2 linked regions of the Homo sapiens genome follow. The protein of the gene in region 2 binds, or shares a complex with, the protein of the main gene of each other region. Each region holds a gene or a part of one and is shown on either strand. Other genes may lie near its edges. The genes, in order: EXOSC2 and EXOSC5.

Region 1 (3,910 bases), on a different chromosome or scaffold from region 2:
TCCCAGCACTTTGGGAGGCTGAGGCAGGTCGATCACCTGAGGTCAGGAGTTCTAGACCAGCCTGACCAACATGGAGAAACCCCGTCTCTACTAAAAGTACAAAATTAGTCGGGCATAGTGGCGCATGCCTGTAATCCCAGCTACTCAGGAGGCTGAGGCAGGAGAATCGCTTGAACCCGGGAGGCAGAGGTTGCAGTGAGCCGAGATCCCACCATTGCACTCCAGCCTGGGCAACAAGAGTGAAACTCCGTCTCAAAAAAATAAATAAATAAATAAATAAATAAATAAATAAATAAATAAAATAAAGACAGAGGCCAGGCATGGTGGCTCATGCCCGTAATCCCAGCACTTTGGGAGGCCGAGGTGGGCAGATCACCTGAGGTCAGGAGTTTGAGACCAGCCTGGCCAATATGGTGAAACCTGTCTCTACTAAAAATACAAAAATTAGCCAGGCATGACGCACGCCGGTAATCCTAGCTATTTGGGAGGCTAAGGCAGAATTGCTTGAATCCAAGAGGCGGACGTTGCAGTGAGCCGAGATCGCGCCACTGCACTCCAGTCTGGGCAACAGAGCAAGACTCCGTCATTAAAAAAAAAGAAAAATTTAAAAAATAACATAAAATAGAGACAGAGTCTTGTTCTGTCACCCAAGCTGGAATGCAGTGGTGTGATCATAGCTTACTGTAGCCTTGAGCTCCTGGGCTCAAGCAACCCTCTGGCCCCAGCCTCCTGAGTAGCTAGGACTACAGGCATGTGCCACCACGCCCGGCTAATTCTTTTTTAATTTTTTTGTAGAGAGGGGGGTCTTGCTATGTTGCCCAGGCTGGTCTTGAACTCTTAGGCTCAAGCAGTCCTCCCTCCTTGGCCTTCCAAAGCGCTGGGATTACAGGCATGAGTCACCACACTCGGCCTGTCATTAATATCTTGACGTGAACAACACCTTCTCCACTCCCTGCGCTAAAAGTTAACACCATTAACAAAAGCCTAGTCTAAAGCACAGGCCACCGTAAGTTACAAGACCCAAAGAAATGACTTAGCAGCAGGTCCCAACAAGAGCTGGGGAGTCAGCCTGAATTAAGGAGACTGAGAAAGGATGCAGCAGAGCCCGACACTTGGTCTAAGACTCGGATCCCTGCAAGGATGACATGGTTCTTCCGTCAGAGACATACAATGGAAGGCCCATTTCCCAGTCCCACAGAAAAGCATCAAGAGGCTGGAGTGCAAAGCGCAGGATACACTGATAAGGTCCCCTTCCTGTAAGAAACCTCTCATTGCAAGCTCATCTTCTGCAGATCTTCTCCTCTGAAATACACAAAGAAATGACATTACTTAAGCCAGATCCTCAGAAAGGTCTCCATCACTTCTCTTTCACTTCCTTTTGAGATGTTTGAGGCCAACCACAATATTCAAGCACTGAGAACTATAGCAAGAGTAGGTAACCCAAGCCACTTGAGGGGAATCAGTGATAATCACGACTTTCCATCTCAAAAGACTTTTCCACAGCTCCTCTTCCTCTTTCCCTCCCTTCTCTGAGGAACATTCAGACCCCTCCCAATCTCACCTAGCCAACATTTCCATAGTCATCTTCCATGACAGCCCTCTGTGGTCCAGCAGGACCAGACTAACTCCTGCTTGGATATATCTCTGCTCATACATTTCCCTTTATCTCAGATTCCCTGAACTAGTCATTCAAAGTCTCTCCATCCTTCCAGGATCAACTCCAATGCCTGTCTTTCCTACAAGCTTCTCTCACTGAAATTTCCTTTTGTATAACCACAGCTTATTTATTCTTCTACTGCCAGGGACTAGGTCAGTTATCTTATATCCCCTGCTGGGGAACTCAATCGTGCTTGGCACTCGGCACAGAGCTTGGCACAGTAAGCCTCTCTGTAAATACACGCTGGACTGAAGATCAAGGTGAACCATGGCATTTTACAAAAGGCTGTGGCTTAGTTACTGTGGTTGTCTGGAATGCCAGCAACCACATTCCACACATGGTTGAATGAAATGCCTTTCAATTCACAAAAACCTAATGTAAAGACAACTTTTCAAGGAACATCTTCACTATGCAAGGCTGTTATATCCAAAAAGGAAAACTGTTAACAACCAGCATCTAAGGGCTTCTCTCCCCAACTCTCTGTTGGGATCCCACCCCATGGATGTTTCTGATCCTACCATATGCCAACTGCTCCCTCTTTCGGGAGACCTGGACAGGGTGAAAAGTCTACATACACATCTAGGCAGCAAACTTCACAGCAGACAAACAGGAGTCAAAGGGGCAACCTCAGTGTAAATCAAAGTCCTCTGGTGGAACAAAGGGTCCCACGGCTCCCCCCAGCCCACTGGGCCCTAGTCCATGGCCCCAGCTGTAGCCCTTACCAGCTCTCCTCCAGGAAGGTTCATGGACGAGAGCAGCAAGACCGAATCCAGCCTGGAGTTGGTCTCCACCTTCCACCTCTTCTGTTGAACCTATAAGCCAAGTTCCACACCTGGACACATGCTCCATGTTCATGTGTCATATCATAAATAACCAGTAAGGCCAGATGTGGTGGCTCACGCCTGTAATCCCAGCACTTTGGGAGGCCGAAGCTGGTGGATCACTTGAGGTCAGGAGTTTGAGACCAGCCTGACCAATATAATGAAACCCCATCTCTACTAAAAATACAAAAATTAGCTGGGCGTGGTGGCGGGTGCCTGTAATCCCAGCTACTTGGGAGGCTGAGGCAGGAGAATCGCTTGAACCTGGGAGGTGGAGGTTGCAGTGAGCCAAGATCATGCCACTGCACTCCAGCCTGGGCGACAGAGCGAGACTCCATCTCAAAAAAAAAAAAACATGAACCAGTAATCTGAAATCGAACAAGCCACATATTTACATCAGAAGCCACACAACGGCCAAATGCAATGAATGCCTTTTTCATGTAACTACAAGTGGAATGACTGTCCCATGAATGAAATCGCCAGCCTGCCTCGACTTTGTAAACACCAATCTGATATCGACGTTACCTCTGTGATTCGTCCCACTACGATGTCTCCTACTTCACCAATGTATCTGAAAGACAAAACACAAGGGGTTCATCCATCTGTGAGCAGACTTTCTGACAAGACCACACACCATTTGAGATGTCGGTTCAACAGGGTGAAAGCCTGGAACAGGCGCCACATTCAGCAAATTCATGTAACTATATTGTCTGGACTTACTTTCAGAAACTGCTAACTTCAAACATTCCTCCACGTATAAAGTCTCCATTAACTATCCTTAGACATATCACCATTCCAAGTAGTTCATTTAGCCCAAAAACCCTATTTTGTTCGATTACACGACAATGAAAAACACGGACTATTTTCCTGTGGCACATGGATGAGTTCTGCACCAGCCAAAGGAAGAGAAAGGAAATCTGAGCCAGGACTCCAACCACACAAGTCTGCTCACGTCTCCTCCACTTACTCACTGCCTGCTCCTCTCAAGCCCCTTTGCTAGTTCCTTACCCGCGATTCTAATGAGACGTACTCAGTGCTGAGGCTAAGTCCTTAGACCTCTTCACTTTTCGGCCACTCAATCTAATACCTTTAAAACACCACTCTGTGCTGTGACTGTGCCACTCTCCTGAATTCCAAATCCTACTCAACTGCTAGCTACCCAACTCTGCCATCTAGATGACTAACAGGCATTTTCAAATGTATCAAGCACAAAACTAAGCTTTCCCGCAGCCCCCTCCAGTCCTCCATAGCAAACCGAGATAGGGGATGAGTTGTCCCCATCTCAGTCAACGGTGACTCCATCCCCTCAGTTGCTCAGGCCAAAAACCTCGGAGAGTTCCTTGATTCCTCTCTCTCTCTCACGCTCCAGGACAAGTCCAGTAGCAAAACCTGTTGGCTCTACCCTTAAAACATATGCAGGAAATAAAAGGCA
Region 2 (3,910 bases):
TACTCTGGAGGTTGAGGTACAAGAATCACTTGAGCCTGGGAGGCGGAGGTTGCAGTGAACTGAGATTGCGCCACTGCACTCCAGCCTCCTGGGTGACAGAGGGAAACTCTGTCCCAAAAAAGAAAATAGAGACAGGAGTCTTCCTATGCTGCTCAGGCTGGTCTCAAACTCCTGGCCTCAAGCAGTCCTCCCACCTGGGCCTCCATAGTGCTGGGATTACAGGTGTGAGCCACCATGCCTGGCCTAAAATGTATTTTTTTTTTTTTATTGAGACTAAGCCTTGCTGTTATTGTCCAGGCTGGAGTGCAATGGTGTGATCTCGGCTCACTGCAACCTCCGCCTCCCCGGTTCCAGCAATTCTCCTGCGTCGGCCTCCCAAGTAGCTGAGATTACAGGCACCCACCACTATGCCCAGCTAATTTTTGTATCTTTAGTAGAGATAGGGTTTCACCATGTTGACTAGGATGGTCTCAAACTCCTGACCTCAGGTGATCCACCCACCTCAGCCTCCCAAAGTGCTGGGATTACAGCAGACAGTACTAGAAGCCAGGCTGTTTATTTCTTAGGTTTTACCTCCTGTACCCCGTTCATAGCTTCTGGGGAAATAAGGAATCAGGATTCATTCCAGATATTATCCCTTTCTCAGGTGTCCAGACTGATGCAAAATTTGGGGGCCAGTGCCTAAGGGAAGAGCTGGGCTGGGGAAGCTTTGGAAAGAGAAGTTGAGAGCAGCTGCAGTAAGAGGGAGGATGGTTAGCTTTCAGGAAGAACTTCCTGTTAAAAGTTACTAATACCAGCCGGGCACAGTGGCTCACGCCTGTAATCCCAGCGCTTTGGGAGGCGGGCAGATCATGAGGTCAGGAAGTTCGAGACCAGCCTGACCAACATGGTGAAACCCAGTCTCTACTAAAAATAAAAAAATTAGCCAGGTGTGGTGGCGCGCGCCTGTAATCCCAGCTACTCAGTAGGCTGAGGCAGGAGAACTGCTTGAACCCGGGAGGCAGAGGTTGCGGTGAGCCGAGATTACGCCACTGCACTCCAGCCTGGGCGACAGAGCAAGACTCCATCTCATTAAAAAAAAAAAAATTACTAATATCAGGGCCAGGCGTGGTAGCTCACGCCTGTAATCCTAGCACCTTGGGATTACAGTTGCCCAGGAGTTCGAAACCCGCCTGAGCAACATGGCAAAATCCCCTCTCTACTAAAAATATAAAAATTAGTCAGGCATGGTGGCACATGCCTGTAGTTCCAGCTACTTGGGAGGCTGAGGCGGGAGGATCACTTGAGCCCAGAAGGTCAAGGCTGCAATGAGCCGTGATGGCACCACTGCACTCCAGCCTGGGCAATGAGAGTGAGACCCTGCCTGAATGCCTGAATGGACGAATGTTACTAATACAGCTAAAGTCTGTTGCACATTCAGCGTGAGCCCCGCAGTGTTCTAAGTGTTTTCTGTGAATTGTGTCCTTTGATCCTCACAAGACGCTAGCGGGGAGGGACTGCTATTTTCCCCATTTTACAAATGAGAGAAATGAAGTGAGTGCTCAAAGAATCAGTACCAACAAATGGCGGGGGTGACGTGGGGAGCCCTGGCCGTCAGGCTCAGTGCCACAAATGGGGCCCCAGGAGCAGGGAAGCTGTGAGTGAGGCCCTCCCTGCTGTCTCCTCAGGTGACACCTCTGTCCTGGCGGGTGTGTACGGGCCGGCCGAGGTGAAGGTCAGCAAAGAGATTTTCAACAAGGCCACACTCGAAGTGATCCTGAGGCCGAAGATTGGGCTGCCTGGTAATTGGGCCCTGCTGAACCTCTGAGTGGTGCCCAGTTTGTCAAAATCACCCCCCCAGCTCCTCCCTACCAGCTGCCCCGAGTCTCCACTCCCCGCTTGGGTCTCCACTCAGCTGTTTCTGTCTTTAACTCTCCGCCTCTAATTAATAACTCATCTTCTGTTGCTTCTCTCTCTGCCTCTAATTTCTCCCTCCCTCTTTTCTCCCTCTCTCTGCCTCCACTCTCATTCATTCCATTAACCTGTTTTTCTTTTATTTATTTTTATTTATTTATTTTTTTTTTGGAGACAGTGTCTCGCTCTGTCACCCCGGCTGGAGTGCAGTGGCACGATCTCAGCTCACTGCAACCTCTGCCTCCCAGATTCAAGCAATTCCCCTGGCTCAGCCTCCCGAGTCGCTGGGATTACAGGCACGTGCCACCATGCCCACTAATTTTTTGTATTTTTTTAGTAGAGATGGGGTTTCACCATGTTGGCCAGGATGGTCTTGATCTCCTGACCTCAAGTGATCCGCCCGCCTCAGCCCCCCAAAGTGTTGGGATTACAGGCGCGAGCCACTGTGCCTGGACCATTAACCTGTTTTTCCACCCTTTTACCCTCATATCCCTCAGTCCCCACTGACTGGACCTGCTAGGGTGGGAGTGGGCGTGGGTAGCAGCACAGACATGGAACTCCCAGGTCTTCTTCCCTTGGATGGTTCCCTTGGTGGATGCTGGAGGTAGCAGGGGTCAGTGGATGGCAGTCAGGCCTTGCCTTCTTCCCACTGGAATCTTCCATCATCCCTGCAGGTAACTGCACCATCCCAGGCTGAGACCGTGAGCCCTTTCTGGGAATTTGGGTGAGGCGTATGGAGGAAGGTGAGTCAAATGAAGGGGAAGACCCTGAACCTCTCTTCAATTTCCCCAGGTGTTGCAGAGAAGAGCCGGGAGCGGCTGATCAGGAACACGTGCGAGGCGGTGGTGCTGGGCACGTTGCACCCCCGCACCTCCATCACCGTGGTGCTGCAGGTTGTCAGCGATGCCGGCTCTGTATCCTTTCTGCCAGGCCTCCTCCTCCAGGAAGTCTCCTGATTGCTTCCCTCCTGGCGGATACATATACCCTCACTGCTAGCCAGAAAGCCTTCAAACACTTGACAGGTACCAGCTCACTGAAGAAGGAGAGCAAACAGCCTGGGTGCTTACTTATGTGCCAGGCACTGTTCTGTGTGCCTTATGCACATTAACTCATGTAATATAGCACATGCCCTTATGATCCCCGTGGAAGTGGCAGAGCCAAGACTTAGACCCAGACCGTCTAGTTCTAGAGCCCACGGACCCTGGCAGATGAGTGTTCTTATGTTCGCATGTTTCAGGTGACAAAACTGAGGCCCAGAGAGGGGAAGGGGCTTGCCCAAGGTCACACAGCTGGAAGGCAGCACAGGCAGGACTCAAGCCCAGGCCAGTCTGACTCCAGAGCCTGTGCCAATCACTTCTTTTGTTTTTTGGGTTTTTTTGTTTGTTTTTGAGACAGGCTCTCACTCTGTCACCCAGGCTGGATGCAGTGGTGCAATGTCAGCTTACTGCAACCTCTACCTCCCGGGCTCAAGCGATTCCCATGCTTTAGCCTCCTGAATTACAGGTGGAATTACAGGTGCCTGCCACCACGCCAGGCTAATTTTTGTATTTTTAGTAGAGACGGGGTTTTGCTGTGTTGGCCAGGCTGGTCTCGAACTCCTGACCTCGAGTGATCAGTCCACCTTGGCCTCCCAAAGTGCTGGGGTTACAGGCATGAGCTACTGTGCCCGGCTGGCAATCACTTCTACTCGGCACCTCAGTGGATTTCAGGCCCTCAGTGCTGGGGGCGCCCTGAGCAGACAGCAGCTGAGTCAGGAGCGTGGCCTTGTAAGATCTCCATGTCTGAGGTGCGAGAGGTTGAGGTTGAGGACTAGAATTAGACACTGTAGAAGGCTTTACTGGAACGTGGCCCTGAACTGGACAGACATTTTATGGATGGGCAGAGAGAGAAGGTATTGTGACCCCATTTTACAGAAGTGGAAAGTGAAGCCCAGAGGAAGGCGTGGAGGATCAGCAGCAGAGCTGGAACCGGTTGACTAAAGCTGTGGTCTTTGTCTGGCTGCTAGGCCTGGAGAAGA

What was found.
Region 1: EXOSC5 (region 2) and EXOSC2 share a complex: the UniProt entries of both Homo sapiens proteins name them as parts of the RNA exosome core complex.

The regions. Positions count from the first base shown.
Region 1 is NC_000009.12:130,696,721-130,700,630, reverse strand, and holds part of EXOSC2 (exosome complex component RRP4), read right to left. Parts: intron 3,050-3,910; coding exon 3,004-3,049; intron 2,470-3,003; coding exon 2,380-2,469; intron 1,303-2,379; coding exon 1,237-1,302; intron 1-1,236. UniProt on the Homo sapiens protein: Non-catalytic component of the RNA exosome complex which has 3'->5' exoribonuclease activity and participates in a multitude of cellular RNA processing and degradation events.
Region 2 is NC_000019.10:41,390,738-41,394,647, reverse strand, and holds part of EXOSC5 (exosome complex component RRP46), read left to right. Parts: intron 1-1,667; coding exon 1,668-1,781; intron 1,782-2,685; coding exon 2,686-2,807; intron 2,808-3,910. UniProt on the Homo sapiens protein: Non-catalytic component of the RNA exosome complex which has 3'->5' exoribonuclease activity and participates in a multitude of cellular RNA processing and degradation events.